Homo sapiens: one gene and its partners. The protein of the gene in region 1 purifies or fractionates together with the protein of each later gene. This does not show direct contact. Each region holds a gene or a part of one and is shown on either strand. Other genes may lie near its edges. The genes, in order: BTN3A2, SLC39A11 and PEX13.

Region 1 (7,310 bases):
TAAATGTGGAATCATGGAATCATTCCCTACCTGAGCAAGGAGTGAGCAGCTGGACCAAGAGGAGGGAGACATGAAAGTTGAGCAGAAGGAAAGCCAGGGAACTTGCCATTTTCATCTATGCTGCATATCAAGAGATACCAGAAGGTGTGGGACAGACACTATGGCCTGGAAGAAGCTTTAGGATTCTGCATGGAAATGTCCACTTCCCCAGGGCTAACTCAAATATGGTGACCGAAGAAGATCTTACCTCTGCCAAAAATGTCTGTCCTTGAGTGTCTTTACCTTTGGGTTCCAGTATGGAAAACCATCTGTAAAAATAATATCTGTTATCTGATCAGGACATCTCTGACTCTACTGCATTAAAATATTAAAATATTCATAATCCTATCACTTCCCCACACTTCCCTTGCCAGGTCCAAGCTTCCATCATCCCCCTCTGATTCATGAAGGACCCTCTTCACTGGATTCCCTGGTCCCACCCTTGTTCAGCTCTGTGGGTGTCCAACACTATGGACTCCTCAAGCGTCAAACTCTTGGCCATTACTACAGTCAACTTATGGCCTGGTGGCTCCTGGTGGGATCCAGGCAGACTGCCTGGCAGAGGCTCTGAAGTCAGTCAGGGGCTGAACCCACCACGTTTAATCACAAAGATATTGATTAGGAGAGCTTTGAATAAGACCAGGCTTTACTCATCTTTTCTTTCTTCCCTTCATAAAGTTATTCAACAAATATTTACTGAGCACCCACAATGGGCTGGACCCACTATGGTAGAGTTAGGAACACAAAGAGGGTAGACAATAGGTAAAGGCTCTACAAGTCACAAGCTTGATGATCTCAGTCATGGGACAAAACCATTTCAACTTTAGTTACTCAAAAATATCGAGTATGAGACTTAGAATGTTCACAATTGGCCCAGCAATTCCACTTCCTGATGGTTACTTCAGCGAAGTACTCGCATGGGTGCAGAGAGAAGCCTCTGTGGGAATGACACTGCAGCACTATTTTTAAAGTATAAAAGTGGTTACCAACTGAACCAGCCACTCACAAGAGACTGGTTAGAGGAATGATGGCTCATCCCTAGGAGGAAATTCAATGCAGCAGTTAAAAAGAGTGATTTAATGTCACTAGCCTGGATAATGGAGATATACTAAGTGATTAAAAAGCACCTTGCAGAACTATACTAATGATTCAATTGAAAAACAAAAGCAAAGCTATACATTTCTGCATAACTATATATGTAAATGCCTGAAAAAGTCTAAAATGATGGATGCTAAACTGAAAATTGGAGGTTAAGTGAGTGAAAGGACGCTTTGGCCTTTTGCTTCCTTTACTTTTAAAATTATTGGAATGCTTTAAGTTTAAAATTTTCATGTATTAGTTAATAACTAATTATTATGAGGAATAATAGTGACTGGAACATATTAGCTGCTCAGTAAATACTAACTCCTCAACAGTTTCTCCCAAAACAAAGGAGCATGAGGCCTGCAGCCATCATACCAGCTGCTGTGGGTCTGGGAATGGCCTCTGAGAACAAGGTCTGCAGATGGAGGTGGGGAGAGATGTAGAGGAAGCAAGGGAACAGAGGTCTGTGCAGCTGGTCATGCTCCACCCCTGCCTGGATCTTGCATCCACCATCAGACTAAACATTATATTTCACCACATCTTCTGCTCCTCGAAACTGCTCTTTATTCTCCTAAGGAGAAGGAGGTATTATTAAGCTAAGCTAAAAATTTCTCTGCTGTCCTCAGAGGGAGAACTTTTATTTTTTAGGTTATTTATTATTCATTCTTTCTACTATAGACAATTTTGCCAAAGAAAAAAATATAAAGGAATAAAACCTTAAATACTCTGTAGTTATATACTTTGCTAATGGAAGTGGAAATGTTTCTGGAAGCATTTGGCCATGTACACATGGCAAGTGCCTTTAAAATGTTGTATTATTTGCCCCCAAAATTCCAACTATAAAAGTTAGTGTTGAAGAAAAAAATTTAGAGATTGATGCAAATATTTATGGATAAGGCTGTTCAATCTAGTAAAATCTACAGTAACAAAATGTAGAAACTGAAAAATCCAAAATAAAGAGTTTTAAAAATAATTCGGGTTTTTTATTTGTTTGTTTGTTCTTTTTTCTTCTTTAGGAGCGGCTTTCTGAGTCAGAGTAGGCTCACAGAGACTCCCAATAATTATATATTCATACAATGTAGTAGCTTGTAACCATGGGAAATCATGCTTTAGGTTTTGGGGAAATGATGAATGGAAAGAAAACCAAGTACTATCCCTAAAAGATACCAAAAATGGTTTAATATAAGGATCCAGTGTTATTAAAATTATAAAGAATTTCACTTAATTAAAATTATGATTCCTAATGGTTACATGGAACATGTTTTATGACTGAACCATGCATTGTTTGTCTATTCCCCACCTGTTGAATATGTATGTTGGTTCAGATTTTACTATATTATAAATACTTCTGTAATAAACACATTTACATATAAATCTATGAGGCACATCTCTTTTTTCTTCTTCTTCTTCAGAATTTCTCAGAATAGATGCCTTGAGTTGGCCAGAACAGATTTTAAGGGTTTTTTGTTTGTTTGTTTGTTTGCCCTTTTCTGACCACAATACGTTAAGAACATGCAGTTGGAATATTTCTTCATTCATGTTGTCTCCCTTTCCTTCCACTAAATCCCAACCTCTGCAGTTCCTTATACTTTGCAGTACTTCTCCCGTCTTCCCACGTGCCCATATGTGCATGTGCGAGTGTGCACATGTACACATGTACACACACACACACACACACACACACACACACACACACACACAGGCACTGCACCCCTTTCTCTGGGAGAGTACTCTCCCTGCATGCCCACTCACCACTCTCAGCGATTCAGCCCCGCTCCTCCCATGCGTTGTAGCCCAGGCTCTAATCAATTTCCTGCACTTACCCCTTGGTATTCCCATTGGAGAATCAGAGCCCACAGAATAAAGACGGTCAATCAATAATTCTCCATTCTTTCTATTATGGCTTAGCCTCTCATCCGGAAGAAAGGAAAAAGAGAAAGCAAATATTGTCTTCTCACCATGAGAAACAGTAAGAGTCGCTCTTTGGAAGAATTAGTTTTTTGATTGGCTCAGAGGTGATGTTTCTCATCAGTTGCTGGGCAGAAACCACTGAGGAACGTTGAAATGAAAACTGAAAGTACATTGAATTGTACACGTTGAGGAAAAACTCCAGCCCTACCTCCCTTAGTGTTTGTGTTTCTGTGTTTATCTATTTGAATCATTCTTGTGCGTGGATGTATATAAGTATTTCTTTATATTCACCTGTCTCGTGTCTTTTACATGGTAATAGAAATATTAGCAGAATGGAGTAGGAAAGTAAAAAAATTTAATGTGCAAAGAGAGGAAGATGTGCACTAATTAAGATGCTTCTGTGGCAGTTTGCTTGCATGTAGATAGGTACGTAGAAGAGGAGGATCTTTTTTACAGAGCCTAATAAAGGTATGAATGGAAAGAAAATGAGACAAACTGCACCTCTTTAAGAACTTCTGGCATTTAGGCTTAGGATATGGTATCAAATAATATAATTTTTCTGATTTCCAGAGGCAGTGCTGCTTGACATTGTTTTACCTTTCCCAGGAAATTCTTACTGCAGATCTTTCTGAGCATCTTCATTCACCCTCAGCTCCTGGTTTGTGCTATATTGTATTTTCTTGGGTATTTGTTTCTCACGCTGCCAGTGGAGTACATATTCTCTGAAGCTAGACACTCCATAGGCTGTGGTCTCTGTAAGGCTCGTTTCCTGTACACCATCTCTGTAAGGAGTTTATGGGACAATCTTGTTCTCCCTGTGGCTTACGACCTCAAAACACACTTTTTTGGGCTGCAAGCCAGAAATCTCCTAGAGCTAATATGTGACTGGAGCTGATGGGATTTGATTATATTGCAACAGTTTGAATTTAGGCTGTGTGGTATCTGCTTGAGATGGCTGGTTGCTTCTGCAGCGTGCATGCCCCCTTCTTCTTAGTGACAAGGCCTAATTTTCTGGGGTACTGCATCCTGCTCTTCCCCCTTGAAGATAGGGCAGGCCAAGGGACTAAGTTGGAGCCAGCGGTTTGTAGGTGAAAGTTGTGGGCTTGTACTTCTCCCAGAAATCCTTCAAAGGGAGGCCAAAATAGCTGGGAGTGTGAGGGTACACTCTCCCTTCTTCCTTCTTCCTCTTGCCTAGAACATGGACTTTGGACCCGGAGGTGCAGTAGCCCACCCTGGGACCATGAGGCAGCCTTGAGGTTGGAAGCCACACACTGGGACAGCAGAGAATGAAGTCAGAAGCAGGCTGGGGCATGAATGACATATCTGAGGTGCCAGATCAGCCCTGGACTGTCACCATCTAAATTTATTTAAAAAATTTTTTCTTTTAAAATATTTTATTATATATTAGTACTCAGGGTAAATTTCCAAATAAGTTTGTTTTTCATGAAAGGAAAACAAATCCTTGTTTTATTTAAGCCAGTGGTACTTCTGGTCTCTGTTATCAACAGAAAAACACAATTTTTCCCTCCCCCTTCCCCCTCCCCAACAGTTTATTATAAAACTTCTAAAACATATAGCAAAGGTGAAAGAATTTCAGTAAATTCCAATATATCTACCATGTAGATTGTATAATTAATATTTTAGTTTCTTACTTTATTATAAATCCATCCTGCTGTTCACCCCTATTCATCCATCAATATTTGTTTATTTGTTCATTTGTTTATTTTTAAATTCAGACTCTATCAGAAGCTGTGCTGCTTGAGATCGTATTAGTAAGAATGAACATCCCACCTTTGCCTGGAGGGTCCAAGTCACTTTGACACAAAGAAGCAGCCAATGTGCTAAGCTTCAGATTAGGAGTTTCTGAGCCCAACTCTTCATATCTCTGAACTTTGTAGTTTCCAAACTATGAGACCCCTAAGTTCATTTCTCACTCAATGTCTTTGTTTCTTCAGCTATGGGTAGGGATGTGACCTGCTTCTTAAGTTGTTTGGGGAGAACCTAGCACAGCACCTGCACATATTAACTCTTTATGAATGTCATTATTTTCCATTATGAAAGGTTCGGTATCAGCTGGTGCCTGTTGTGGAGTTGGAGTTTTAGTTTGAAGGTGAAGAGAAAATCTTTTTTAAAAATGGCATGAGAAAATGTGTACATTGGAAACAATAGTGTGAAAGGTGCCAGGGAAGATGGGAAGTAAGAGTGCCATTTACATTGTATTCTGTGGAATGATGACGCTATGATTACACAATATAGCCAGTCCTCATTAGAGAATCAGATGGTAGAAGACAAGGAGACCAGGAAGAAAGCTACTGTGACACTCCAGGCAAGAAATGATGAGGCCTTAGGGATGGAGGAGAGGGAAGAGGATTGATTATTATTCTTAATAATAGCTTATACTCACATAGAACCTACCGTGATGTTGGTATTGTGCTTAGAGGTTTACATGCATGAATAATACTTTTGCTTTGTGAAGTTCTGAGCAGAGAAGCCCACTAAGCTCTGCCTGGACTTCTGACCCACAGAAACTGAAGTGATAAAAGTGTACTGTTATTTATTTATTTATTTTTGAGGCAGAGTCTCGCTGTGTTGCCCAGGCTGGAGTGCAGTGGCACAATCTTGGCTCACTGCAACCTCCACTTCCTGGGTTCTAGCAATTCTTGTGCCTCAGCCTACCAAGTAGCGGGGATTATAGGTGTGTGCCACCACGCTGGGCTAATTTTTTATCTTTTATTTTTTGCGTTTTCAGTAGAGATGGGGTTTCATCATGTTGCCCAGGCTGGAAAAGTGTACTGTTTTAAACCACTAAGTTTGTGGTAATTTGTTATGCAGCAATAAATCACGAATGCATTAGGTAAGTGAAACACACAGTGGCAACAAACATGAATATAAAGAAGACAAAGAGAATAACTTGTGTTTCCAGCCCTGACCCGTTGCCTGGACTGCAAGCTTATTATTGACCTGCCTACTCTACATCTCCACGGGAATCTCTAGTAAGCTCCTCAAACCCAACATATTCAAAACTGACCTTTGGATTCTGTGCTGGCTCCTCCTCTGGCCTCCACAAGCGGTTTCTCCCTCATTTTCCCCATCTCAGTAAGTGGCAACTCCATCTGTACCGTTTCTTAGGACCAAAACCTTGTGGTCACCCTTGATGCCCTCCTTTTTCACACCCCACCTGTAAGTTTATCAGCAAAGCCTTTTTATTCTATCTTGAAAATAAATCCAGCATCATAACATTTTCATGGCTCCTCCCTGGTACAAGTCATCTGCATCTTTCCCCTGGATCACTGCAGTAGCTCCCAGCTGGGTCTTCAGGCCTCCATCCACCACCCCTACCCACAGCCCATCTTGGTCTAGCATGTGAAGTAACTTCTTAAAACATAAGTCAGTCCAGTCCTTTTTCTGCTCTAACCTTCCAGTGGCTCCCCTCTCAGAGGTAAAGCCCAGGTCAGCATGATGACTTTCAAGGCCATACATGATCTGGCCCTCAACCCCCTCTGGCCTTGTCACCTCCTCTTCTCCTGATCACCCTGTGTGCTCTGCGCACCCCAGCCTCATTGCTTTTCTTCACACAAACCACAGTGCTTCTGCCTCTGTGCTCTGGCACTGCTGTTCTCTCAACTCGGAATGCTTTTCTCCCAAGTATTCTGTGCCTCGCTCCCCTTGCTCATAACCACCCTATTTTAAACTGTAACTTCCAACCGGGAACGAGGGCTTACAGGTGTAATCACAGGACCTTGAAAGATCGAGGGAGGAGAATTGCATGAGGCCAGGAGTTCAAGAACCTGGGCAGTATGCATAGCAAGATCTCTGTCTTTCAAAAAAAAAAAAAATTAGGCTGCAGTGAGCTATGATCACTCCAATGTACTCTAGCCTGAACAACAGAGCAAGACCCCTTCAAAAAGAAATGCAAGTTCTGCTATTCCAGGTTTATTTCTCTCCTGAGCACTTATCATCATCCAGCACACCATATATATTACTAATTATTTCATTTCCTGTCTGCCTCCTACCACAAGTTATGTTGTTTTTGAATGAGAACTTTCTGTTTTGTTCACTTCTGTGACTCCACCACCTAGAATAGTGACTGGCACATAGTTAGCGTTCATGGATCCTTGTCAAATGAATGAATTAATGAATTGACCAAATAGAGAAGCCTGAGGGAAGCTGGGGTGGGGGCTCCCCGATGTGGGTGCAGAATTAGCCTGAGACAGGAGAAAGAACACCTGCTTGTTGAAATCAGAGGAAACAGATCATGAGGGACAGGTATAGGTGGT
Region 2 (7,123 bases), on another chromosome or scaffold:
CTGTTATGCATCCATATCCCCGAATACCACCTGCTTTGCTGCTCCTGCCCTCAGTTGCTCCAGATCTCCTCCAAAGCTCCCCAGATCAGATCTTGTATATAGTAAGCACCCCGGTTGCAGGCTCCTGATGCATTCAGTAGTGGCCACAGGTGTCCTCGGCTCCCAGACTGTGTTGGGAATTCGAATAGCAGGGAAGGGGCTCCTGGGAGGGAGGCGGGCTTGGCCTCCATCCTCATCCTCACCTCCTCTGACACCTGCTTAGGCCAGTGGCTCTCAACGCCCTCGCACACTCTTAAAATCTGCACACAGGGGGCCCAATGCCACGGCAATAAACCGAGATCTCCAGGGCAGGGCCGAGGCATCGGCATTTGCCGGTGCTCCCTGTGACTGGCATGTGTCGTCAGGTCTGAGAGCCGTGGATTCAAATCCCACTCTGGAGCTGATGCAGGTGATTGAAGAAGAGGAGAGGGCTGGAAGGGACTGTGTCCTCCACTGGGCCACCCCCACCAGTGGGCCTCTGACCAATGCCCAACAAGCAGCGGGGCGAGGGAACTTGGATGGGCCTGTGCGTGTGCACGGGTGTGTGGAGGAGAGCCCAGTTAGGCAGTGTTGTGCATGACAGGTAGGAAAGGCAGAGAAACTGTGGTGCCAGCCCCTGCTGGGGAGCAAAGGAGCCCAGGAGTGTCAGGAGGGACTCTGACCGCCCAGCAATGCAATGCCCTGCTGAGAAAGGCCTGGCAGGATCCAGAGGGCATGGCAGCTGTTTGGGCTGGCAGCCCCGTGCCAGGGCTGGGGCAAGGCAGAGGTAACGAGGCTTGCCAGGGATGGAAGAATGGGGTTTCTGTGCTGCTTATCAGGATGGTGGCTCCCAGACAGGATGTGGAGGAGGCTCCCACAGCCCGCCGGGCGATGGCTGTAGTCAGCGCTATGTCACGGCGAGGACTTTGGATGGGGAGCCCCACCTCTGATTTGTCAGTGACATTGGGCTGGTCACTCTGCGGCTACCTTCGTGTGCCTGCCTGTGAATATGAGGTGCAGGCAATGGCAGCGGACTGAGAGCCAGCCACCAAGTGCCTGGCAAAGCCCAAGATATCAGAAGCCTTGGCCTTCCTCATTGGAAAGAAACCTTGCACTTCGGACTTTGCAAAAGGTCAAGGAAGCTGGTTGTATTCACTCAACCATTTTGAGGGCTACAAGGAGATGCTGAACAAAGTCGCAGGGAAGGGGCCCCCCTGAGGGTCTATCTGGGAAGGCGGGGCAGGGGCTTATGAAATATTGGCAAGAATTTATCCTTAAGAATTTGTCCTCAACATAAATATATTCACATGTCTCCAACTCCTGGAATAGGAGCTCAGGGTCAGCTTGCACATGAAATTGGTAGCAGAAGCTGCGAGAACAGGCCGCATTTCTGCCCAGGGCTGGTTAGAACACGCTTGTCAGCATCCTATAACTGAAGCAACGTTCAACAGTGTCTTCCAAAGCTAGCTTTCGAGTCCTAGGCCTGGGGCCCCAGAGGGAAGAAGTGAGGCCATTAACTCCGATCCTATACCCAATGCCAGAAGCGGCACCCATCACCCTCCCTGGCAGAGCAGCAGAAGAGGGGAGCCTAGGACCTTTCAAGGTGAGGAAGAGAGCTCCTGACCCTTTTGTCCTGCCCCTATAGACTGGCTAGGAAGACATGTTAGGGACCCAGAAAATAAGGAAAAGCAAGATGGCTAAGCAGGGCCACCCGCTCACTCCCCATGCCCCACCCTTCCGCACACACACGCACATTTTAAACACAAGGGACCAGAATGACACCTTTTTCCTAAACATCTGTAGCTAGATTTCCTTTTTCATCCTGTCTCATTTCTCCAAATCCTTCTCTCCTGTTGAACTAGGACAGATCAAGACTATGTGGAGGATATGTAAGCTACAGTTGACTTCCTGCCCAGGGCCTCACCTCCTAGAAGCACTTCTCAGGGAAGTGTAAAACTGTCCCCAGCTGCCCAGGACAAAATCTTCAGAGGTGACCCCCAGGGCTCAATTATCCAATGGAGCTTTCCATACTTTAAAGTGCAGCAGGCCGGGTGAGGTGACTCACACCTGTAATCCCGCACTTTGGGAGGCCGAGTCGAGCAGATTACCTGAGGTCAGGAGTTCGAGACCACCCTGGCCAACATGGTAAAACCCCATCTCTACTAAAAATACAAAAATTAGCTGGGCGTGGTGGTGGGCACTTGTAATCCCAGCTACTGGGGAGGCTGAGGCAGGAGAATCGCTTGAACCCATGAGGCGGAGGTTGCAGTGAGCTGAGATCACGCCACTGCACCACTTCAGCCTGGGTGACAGAGCGAGACTCCTTCTCAAAAAAAAAAAAAGAAAAGAAAAGAAAAGAAAAACCAAAACAAAAAAAAAGGGTGCAGTGGCTCATACCTGTAATCCCAGCACTTTTCAAGGCTGAGGCAGGTGGATCATCTGAGGTCAGGAGTTTGAGACCAGCCTGGCTAATATTCTGAAACCCTGTCTCTGCTAAAAATACAAAAAAAAAATAGGGGGGTGTGGTGGCACATGCCTGTAATCCCAGCTACTCGGGAGGCTGAAGCAGGAGAATCGCTTGAACCCCAGAGGTGAAGGCTGCAGTGAGCTGAGATCGTGCCAGTGCACTCTAGCCTGGATGACAGAGCGAGACTCCATCTCAAAAAAAAAAAAGAAAAAAAAAGCGTGCAACAGAAGAGTCAAGCCCACCAGGCTCATCAGAATGCCCCCTACTCCCTTCCAGCAGCTCTCCCCTCCTCTGTGCCCAGGGAAGCGTCCAGCCTCCAGACATTTACTGGGGCTCAGGGGGGTCTGGAGGTGATAGAAGGAATTCTTCTATATGTGCCAGCCTAGGAGAAGCAAGAATCCACATCTCCCGGGAGTTTCTGTACAACCCAAACAGACCAAGCAGTATATAGGAACACAGTATCTGAAATGCCTTCAGGTTGCACAGTGGTTCTCACCAAAATCTTACAAGTGATGTAAAAATCTCACACAAGTGTCAACAAGAGCAAATGAGTGAGTGCCGATGGAAACTCAAGCATAGATGAGCCATAAGCAAAACAGCCAAGCCAGGTCTCTTTGAAACAGAGCTTTGCAGAGGAATGAGTTTTGGCTTTAGGGTAGAAAATCTTAGTCTCTCTTGGAAAGAGGACGCATGAGTTCTTGGAAAAGCTTTAAGTCCCTGTCTCTGTTATTTCACGCTGCAACCTCAGTGATAACACTCACCCTCACCCCAGGACAGGCATTGATTACGTGCTTACTGCATACTAGCTCCCGTGTGCTAAGGGCTTGAGAGGGACCATCCCAGGTAATCATATCAGCAACGCTGTGAAGTGAGGGTGGGTATTGTTCTTCAAATTCTGCAGTTGGAGAAATGGAAAGTAGCACAGCTAACAAAGCACAGACCCAGGATTTGGACAGAAGAAGTCAGACTGCAAAGCCCAAACTTCAACTACCACATGCATGGCCATGAGAACATAAGAAGAGATAGGGTCTGCAATGCCCAGGGTCTGTGGTTTCATCTTGCCAGATCTTTCTGCAGCCACTGAGCTATCAGGGCAGGGGTCAGCAAACTGCAGCCCATGGGCCAAATCTGGCCCCCCACTCATTTGTGTAGATAAAGTTTTATTGGAACACAGCCACACTCAATGGTTTATGTACTGTCCATAGCCACTTTTGCACCTGCAATGTCAGAGTTGAGTGGTTGCAACAGAGACTCAGTGGACTGCAAAACCTCAAATATTTACTATCTGGCCCATGACAGAAAAAGTTTGCTGCCCCCTAGATCCAGGGATGAAGTTGGAGCATGTTTGAGCCCCTCTCTAAGGAGTCAAAGGAGAGCACAAACTTGGGTGATATAGACAGGGATTTGGGTAGACTCGTGGGAAATGCTGAGTGATGCAGCTTTTGTGGACATGTCCTGGGCTGGTGTGGTGGGGTGTCTTCTTGTCTGTCCACTCCACTTCATGAACAGTTCTGCCTGCAGGTTGGAGAGACAGGCTCAATGCTTCTGTCAGTCCCAAGAGACCATAATATTTCCTTTATTAAGGAACTGATCAGTTTTCGGATGCTATCACTTTTCAGATGCCCCCTGGGGAAGCTGCTTTGTCCCTCTTCACAGTTTCCCACCCCCAGCCAGTCTAGGCCCCACAGCTCCTAAGTCAGCTCAGGGCTTCTTCCCCCAACCCCACCCTAGGGGGACCATCCCTGCCACGGGGTGCTCACTATTCTCCATCACTTCTGTTACATATCCATGTCCCCTAATGCCACCTGTTTTGTTACTCCTGTCCTGTGTTGCTCCGGATCTCCTCCAGAGCTCTCCACATCAGATCTTGTATACAGTAAGCACCCTGGGCTGCAGGCTCCTGATGCATTCAGTAGTGGCCACAGGTGTCCTCGGCTCCCAGCCTGTGTTGGGAATTGGGATAGCAGGGAAGGGGCTCCTGGGAGGGGGGTGGGCTTGACTGCTTTCCTCATCCTCACCTCCCATGATGCCTGCTTAGGCCAGTGGCTCTCAACGCTGTTGCACACAGGGGCAGATTTTAAGCTGATGGGTAGATGCTGAGGGGCTCATTGTAATCTTGTCAAAAAGGGATGGGCACTAATTCTATGAACCACATGTGAGCTAAGTGGTGACAGGTATGAGATTCTGTTAGGGCTGGACTTTTCCTAAGAGTCTACTTGACTGGCAGACTCGAGGTGGGGGCTACTTCTTCCTGAGGTATCTGGAACTACGAACCTCAATGAAACATGTGCAGGAGTTGGGGGATAAAGGTAAAAAAAACAGGGTAAAGGCCAAACCCTGAAACAAAATGGAGGTCAGATGCTAAACTGGGGATTCGCCTTGGTGTTCTTTGTTAGAGGCTGGAACTTGGGCCTCAGCCGGATCAGGCCTGACAGGACCTTCAGGGCCACGAGTGTGTCCCAGTCCCGGGAGCCTGGGGCAGGTCATAGGCAGGGGTCCCAGCTACCAGTCTACAACACTCCCTTGCAGCAATGGGTAGATTCCTATTGGCAGCAAGATGGATGGACGTGAGCCAGTTGACCTGAAAGTCGGTGATGGTGGAGTTTCTCTTCTCTATCTAATCTACCCACAATTCCCTCGGGCCACACACCAGCATTGCTTGCCGAGTGGCACCCTCTTCTCACGCCCTTTAGATCATTGTTGATCAGATGGCCCTTCATGGAGGGGCTGCTTCTTGGAACTGTCCGGCCAAGGTAGAGTCTCACGTGCAAAAGGGCCTTCCTAAGGCACTCGGACTGGCCCCATTTCCCTCCTCTGCTTCCCTCATGCCTCTGTTTCCTGTGCAAGTTGACTTTTGGCTGATTTGCTGTAGTTTGCAGCATCCACAATAAGGGTTCTTCATGTACATGCCTGTGTTGTCTCCATGGCTAAATACTAAGCCCCCTGAGGCCAGGCATGTGGTCACAGATTGCATTTGTACGCATCCCATTTTGCTTCTCCCTCCTCTCACACTCCAATGCCTGGTTTGTGCAGAAAGCAGCTTCTCAAAGACAGGCATCTATCAGCACAGCCTGTCACTGTCCTGCAGAGGCAGGAGGTGAGAGGATCACTGTGAGCACCACTGGGGCCCAAAGAAATGCAGCGATGGTGCCAGACCTGCAGAGCCCACGGAGAAGCTGAGCCCAGAGCCAGATCTGTGGCACCATCAGCGTCTGCAGCTGCACTTCCTTGTCCCATTTCTGAAGTGGCCTCTGAATAAAATGTGATATACTCATTTCTGTGCTGTAACAGAATAGAAACCAAAATGCATTAAGCACCTCTCTATGCTAGGATGTGATAGGCATTATTGGGTCACTGGGTCACTCAGCAATCCTTTATGGTAGATATTGTTGTCCCTAAATTGTATACAAGAAACAGAGGTGTAGGCTGGGTGCCGTGGCTCACGCCCATAATCCCAGCACTTTGGGAGGCCAAGGCAGGCAGATCACTTGAGGTCAGGAGTTGGAGACCAGCCTGGCCAACATGGTAAAACCCCATCTCTACTAAAAATACAAAAATTAGCTGGAAATCACTTGAACCCGGGAGGTGGAGGTTGCAGTGAGCCGAGATCATGCCACTGCACTCCAGCCTGGAGTCTCCAGAGCGAGACTCCATCTCAAAAAAAAAAAAAAAGAAAAAGAAAAAAAGAAAAAGAAACAGAGGCGTAGAAAGTAAAATGAAAAGTGCAGTTATACAGCCACGTGGCAGAACTCAGGGCACCCTGAGAGCCAGCCAGTGTGTTCTGTGCTGTAGCAAAGCATTGTAAGGACAGAGCCTGCCCAGGACCCAGGACAGCATGATGGGTAGAGGGCTCACGTCACTCCCTCCTGCAGCCCCTGCTCTTTACCTAGACACACGTCCTGACCTTTCTCCTTCCTCTCCTACTGCAGGTCACAGGTCTCCTCCTGGCTTCCTAGCACCCACGGAGGTCTTGGCCTCGGCCAGGGACTCCCATTGTGTGAGCACCTATTCCAGACAGCAGCCTTCATGTGCTTTCTTGGTTTTTCAGGAATTTGGCCATTGGAATCGGGATCCAGAATTTCCCCGAGGGCCTGGCTGTCAGCCTTCCCTTGCGAGGGGCAGGCTTCTCCACCTGGAGAGCTTTCTGGTGAGTGCTGCCCAAGGGCAAGGCCATGTCACAGCATCCTCCATGTGGGCTTCTTTCAACAAAACAGTGATGTGCTTTTGCACTGCCATGCTCAGATATGACGTAGAATGGCATGCATCCATGTGCTAGGGTTGAGCCAACAGTCTGGGCACGTGGAGTGTCTGCTTGCCTCCCCCTGCGGTGGTAAATGTCTCTGTTCTCTCCTTAGGTATGGGCAGCTGAGCGGCATGGTGGAGCCCCTGGCCGGGGTCTTTGGTGCCTTTGCCGTGGTGCTGGCTGAGCCCATCCTGCCCTACGCTCTGGCCTTTGCTGCCGGTGCCATGGTCTACGTGGTCATGGACGACATCATCCCCGAAGCCCAGATCAGGTTGGAGAACCTTCCCTCCCTGTCTGTCCCTGTCCCAGTCCCAGCTGGGACCCCAGCCTTGGGATATGCTCTTTCTTCATTTGCCTTTCCTTTCCTTATTCCCTCCCCCTCTCTGCCCCTTCCC
Region 3 (3,894 bases), on another chromosome or scaffold:
GGGACTTAAATCTTACAGTAAGCAGTGATGTCTAAACTAGAATCTAGATCCCCCAAAATCTAGGTATGAAGTGTTTTTATTTAACACACCTGTAGGTAATTCTATATAAATGTATTATTTTTCTTTTTTTTTTGTTTTTTTCTTTTTAGATGGAGTCTCGCTCTGTCGCACAGACTGGAGTGCAGTGGCGCGATCTCGGCTCACTGCAATCTCTGCCTCCCAGGTTCAAGCAATTCTCCTGCCTCAGCCTCCCAAGTAGCTGGGACTACAGGCACCCACCGCCACACCTGGCTAATTTTTGTATTTTTAGTAGAGACGGGGTTTCATCATATTGGTCAGGCTGGTCTCGAACTCCTGACCTTGTGATCCGCCCGCCTTGGCCTCCCAAAGTGCTGGGATTATAGGTGTGAGCCACAATGCCTGGCCTATTTTTCTTTAAATCACAAAGAAACAGAACAGATAGGTTTGCAGTAGGTAATATATACAATAATGTTAAAGAGATACTTCATATTAATTCTAATCCTGCAAAAGTGTTAACAATTTATCTTAAAAAGTCAATCAAGTTTAACATATTTTTATTTCTCCAGTAAAAGTAACTTCACAACCTACTAAAAATAAAAATTTAACTGCATTCAGTTTCTGTTCATTTTTCTATTAAAGAAAGCACAAGATAAAGGATAGCTGTGTTCAAGTAAATGTGTAATTATGACACAGACAGAATCAAGTACGTACATAAAATGTTAAAACATGAAAATGTATAGTTCTTTTACCATTTCCTTTCTGAACTCATAAAATATAATCAGAAAAATTAAAAGAAACATGTTTTATTATTGTAAACTTATATTTTATTTAATTAATAATGTTTTGGTGTGTTAGTAATTTCTGTAAAGTAGCACTCCTTAAATAAGTTCCTAAAAATAATATTGGAGCCTTGAACATTTAATCTCAGCTAAAAAAATTATTCTAAAACTGTCATGATAAAAAAGGTTACAAAATTTCTCTTTATTCTAGTCCTGAATTCCTTCTCCAGAATTTTAATACAAAACGAATTTTCAGGCACAAATAGTCACCAGATAATGCATACCGTAATTTAGCAGACTTAACCAAACAATAAACACCCCTACAAAAGTGTCACTATTTTATCACTTTGTGCTGTACTCTTCTCCCTATACATCTTTAATAGTGGTCACTTCTACTTTACTTCTAGCATTCAATTTAGACATCTCAACCCCAAATTTAATAATCTGTTTTATCAAACATTTGTTTTGAGAACAAAATTTCTATAAATTATCTGACAAATCAAAGCAGAACCTTTAATTGTAGAACACAAATGAAAAATAATATACAAGAAACCTTATCTCTTCAACTTCAAGGCTAATACCTGGGTGTTGGAAAACTGGCCAAAGATAAATAAATTTTACTATATTTATTTTTCTGCACTGGGTCAAGATTTCTATTATAAATGATATGTTACTTACGATACTGTCGTTTCAAAAAAGGGCTTTCCAAGAAGCCTTTAGTAAAGTTCTTCTATGCTGGGTATGTACTTGGTTCCTGTATGTTTTAATCTGAACTATTCGAGAATTACTTATTTGTTGAACATAGTCTATTAGAAAAAAATACTAAATCGCTGGGTGCGGTGGCTCACGCCTGTAATCCCAACACTTTGGGAGACCGAAGCGGGCTCATCACGAGGTCAGGAGATGGAGACCATCCTGGGTAACACGGTGAAACCCCGTCTCTACTAAAAATACAAAAAAAATTAGCCGGGCCTGGTGGCAGGCGCCTGTAGTCCCAGCTACTCGGGAGGCTGAGGCAGGAGAATGGCGTGAACCCGGGAGGCGGAGCTTGCAGTGAGCCGAGATCGCGCCACTGGACTCCAGCCTGGGCGACAGAGTGAGACTCCGTTTCAAAAAAAGACAAAAGAAAAAATACTAAATCACAATTTTTATCAAACAGTTCAAAGTTTTCAACAATATCTATAAATGTATTCTTATACACCTGTATTCCTGATAGTATTACTCTGTAGTATGTTCGTAGCCAAGTATATGAAGTTTCCAATTTTCTGGGGAAATATTCAGTGTACTGAAAGTTAACTGCATTTAAAATCATTATAAACCAAAAAACACGTCAAATAGCATTATCGTATTATTATTTTTTGTTTGTTTGTTTTGAGACAGAGTCTTGCTCTGTCCCCTAGGCTGGAGTGCAGTGGCATGATCTCAGCTCCCTGCAACCTCTGCCTCCCGGGTTCAAGTGATTCTCCTGCCTCAGCCTCCTGAGTAGCTGGGACTACAGGTGCACGCCACTGCACCCAGCTAATTTTCGTATTTTTAGTAGAGACAGGGTTTCACCGTGTTGGCCAGGCTGGTCTCAAACTCCTGACCGCAGGTGATCCGCCCGCCTTGGCCTCCCAAAGTGCTGAGATTAAAGGCATGAGGATTATCATATTCTAAATGGCAATAGAGCACTAAGACTATAAATAAGTCTCAGTAGTAAAAACTAAACCTAAAAGAAAAATGTATCCAATGTGACACATTTTCAATATTTACAGAGCATCCTAAATATGGAATTTAAAAAATTACACAAGGTAGAAGCAAACAATCTATGAAAATATTAAAAATTACTATTATAACTGATTATATCATTAAGTGCAAACTCAAAAGAACTCAAGTATTTGTTGTAGGAAAAGAAAGTATACCTTTCATATACTTCTGATTCACCCAGTATGAAAACTAGTCATATTTTAAAGAAATAAATAATTTTATTTTTTGAGATGGAGTTTCGCTTTTGTTGCCCAGGCTGAAGTGCAATGGCGAGATCTCCGGCTCAGCGTAACCTCCGCCTCCTGGGGTTCAAGCAATTCTCCTGCCTCAGCCTCCCGAGTAGCTGGGATTACAGGCATGTGCCACCACACCTAGCTAATTTTGTATTTTTCGTAAAGATGGGGTTTCTCCATGTTGGTCAGGGTGGTCTTGAACTCCCAACCTCAGGTGATCTGCCCGCCTCAGCCTCCCAAAGTGCTGGGATTACAGGCGTGAGCCACCATGCCTGGCTTAAAGAGATAAATAATTAAGGGATCCTTAGAAGAAATGGAACAGTTTGTAAGAAAGATAAATTTCAGACTTTTTGCTAGGAGGGAAAACTATTAGGGCTACATACTCTATAATTCTAGAACCATTTCCTTCAGAATGCTTCTGGGTGACCTTTTCAAATTAAATTTTTAAAAATACAGTAAAAGATAGCAGTGTCAGTTGTTTGTGGGTGAAAATATAAACCCAACACTGGATATAATACAGATCAGAAAATTTTATTATTGAGATTACTTAAGGTTGTAAAAAAAAAAAAAAATTTACCTTTTGCCTGTTCTCATACTGACATGTCACCACTCCATTTCTAAGGATTCCAAGTCAATTAATGCAGAACTTTTAAAAGTATTAATGATCTCTACTGTACCAAACTGTGCATGCTATAGTTCATCAATCTTACTCTTCCAATAAACCTAGAGATTTAAATAAGATAAAAATGACAGCAGTCTCCATAATCTTAAAATCTAGGTGAAACAAATGTCCTTATGGTCCAATAATGTGTATAATAAAATGTAACCAGGTCACCAGACCAACATACTAGTGTGTAACTTTAATAATTTCTAGCAGCAAAACACCTGAAATAGCCAATAACAAATGTTTTCATTGGATTGTACATTCATTTCTTTGTGAGAAATAATTTTAAAAAGTACTCTAAAGTATTGTTCAACTGCAGGCAAACATGAAAGATATCAAAGATCTTGCTTTTCTCCATCTTTCCCAATGGAATCAGGTGCAACTGGAACCTTATTAGTTTCAACAAAAACAGATTCAAAGGCAGCTTCCTGTTCATCCAAAGAATCAGCAA

What was found.
Region 2: the proteins of BTN3A2 (region 1) and SLC39A11 purify together in Homo sapiens (affinity purification with mass spectrometry; 2 studies listed by BioGRID and IntAct, with this or other methods). This does not show direct contact.
Region 3: the proteins of BTN3A2 (region 1) and PEX13 purify together in Homo sapiens (affinity purification with mass spectrometry; 3 studies listed by BioGRID and IntAct, with this or other methods). This does not show direct contact.

The regions. Positions count from the first base shown.
Region 1 is NC_000006.12:26,360,988-26,368,297, reverse strand, and holds the start of BTN3A2 (butyrophilin subfamily 3 member A2 isoform a precursor), read right to left. Parts: upstream 3,101-7,310; 5' UTR 2,962-3,100; coding exon of another isoform or gene 2,946-2,961; intron 324-2,945; exon of another isoform or gene 309-323; 5' UTR 248-308; intron 121-247; 5' UTR 116-120; coding exon 31-115; intron 1-30. UniProt on the Homo sapiens protein: Plays a role in T-cell responses in the adaptive immune response. Inhibits the release of IFNG from activated T-cells.
Region 2 is NC_000017.11:72,648,679-72,655,801, reverse strand, and holds part of SLC39A11 (zinc transporter ZIP11), read left to right. Parts: intron 1-6,533; coding exon 6,534-6,632; intron 6,633-6,840; coding exon 6,841-6,999; intron 7,000-7,123. UniProt on the Homo sapiens protein: Zinc importer that regulates cytosolic zinc concentrations either via zinc influx from the extracellular compartment or efflux from intracellular organelles such as Golgi apparatus. May transport copper ions as well.
Region 3 is NC_000002.12:61,048,655-61,052,548, reverse strand, and holds the end of PEX13 (peroxisome biogenesis factor 13), read right to left. Parts: coding exon 3,779-3,894; 3' UTR 559-3,778; downstream 1-558. UniProt on the Homo sapiens protein: Component of the PEX13-PEX14 docking complex, a translocon channel that specifically mediates the import of peroxisomal cargo proteins bound to PEX5 receptor.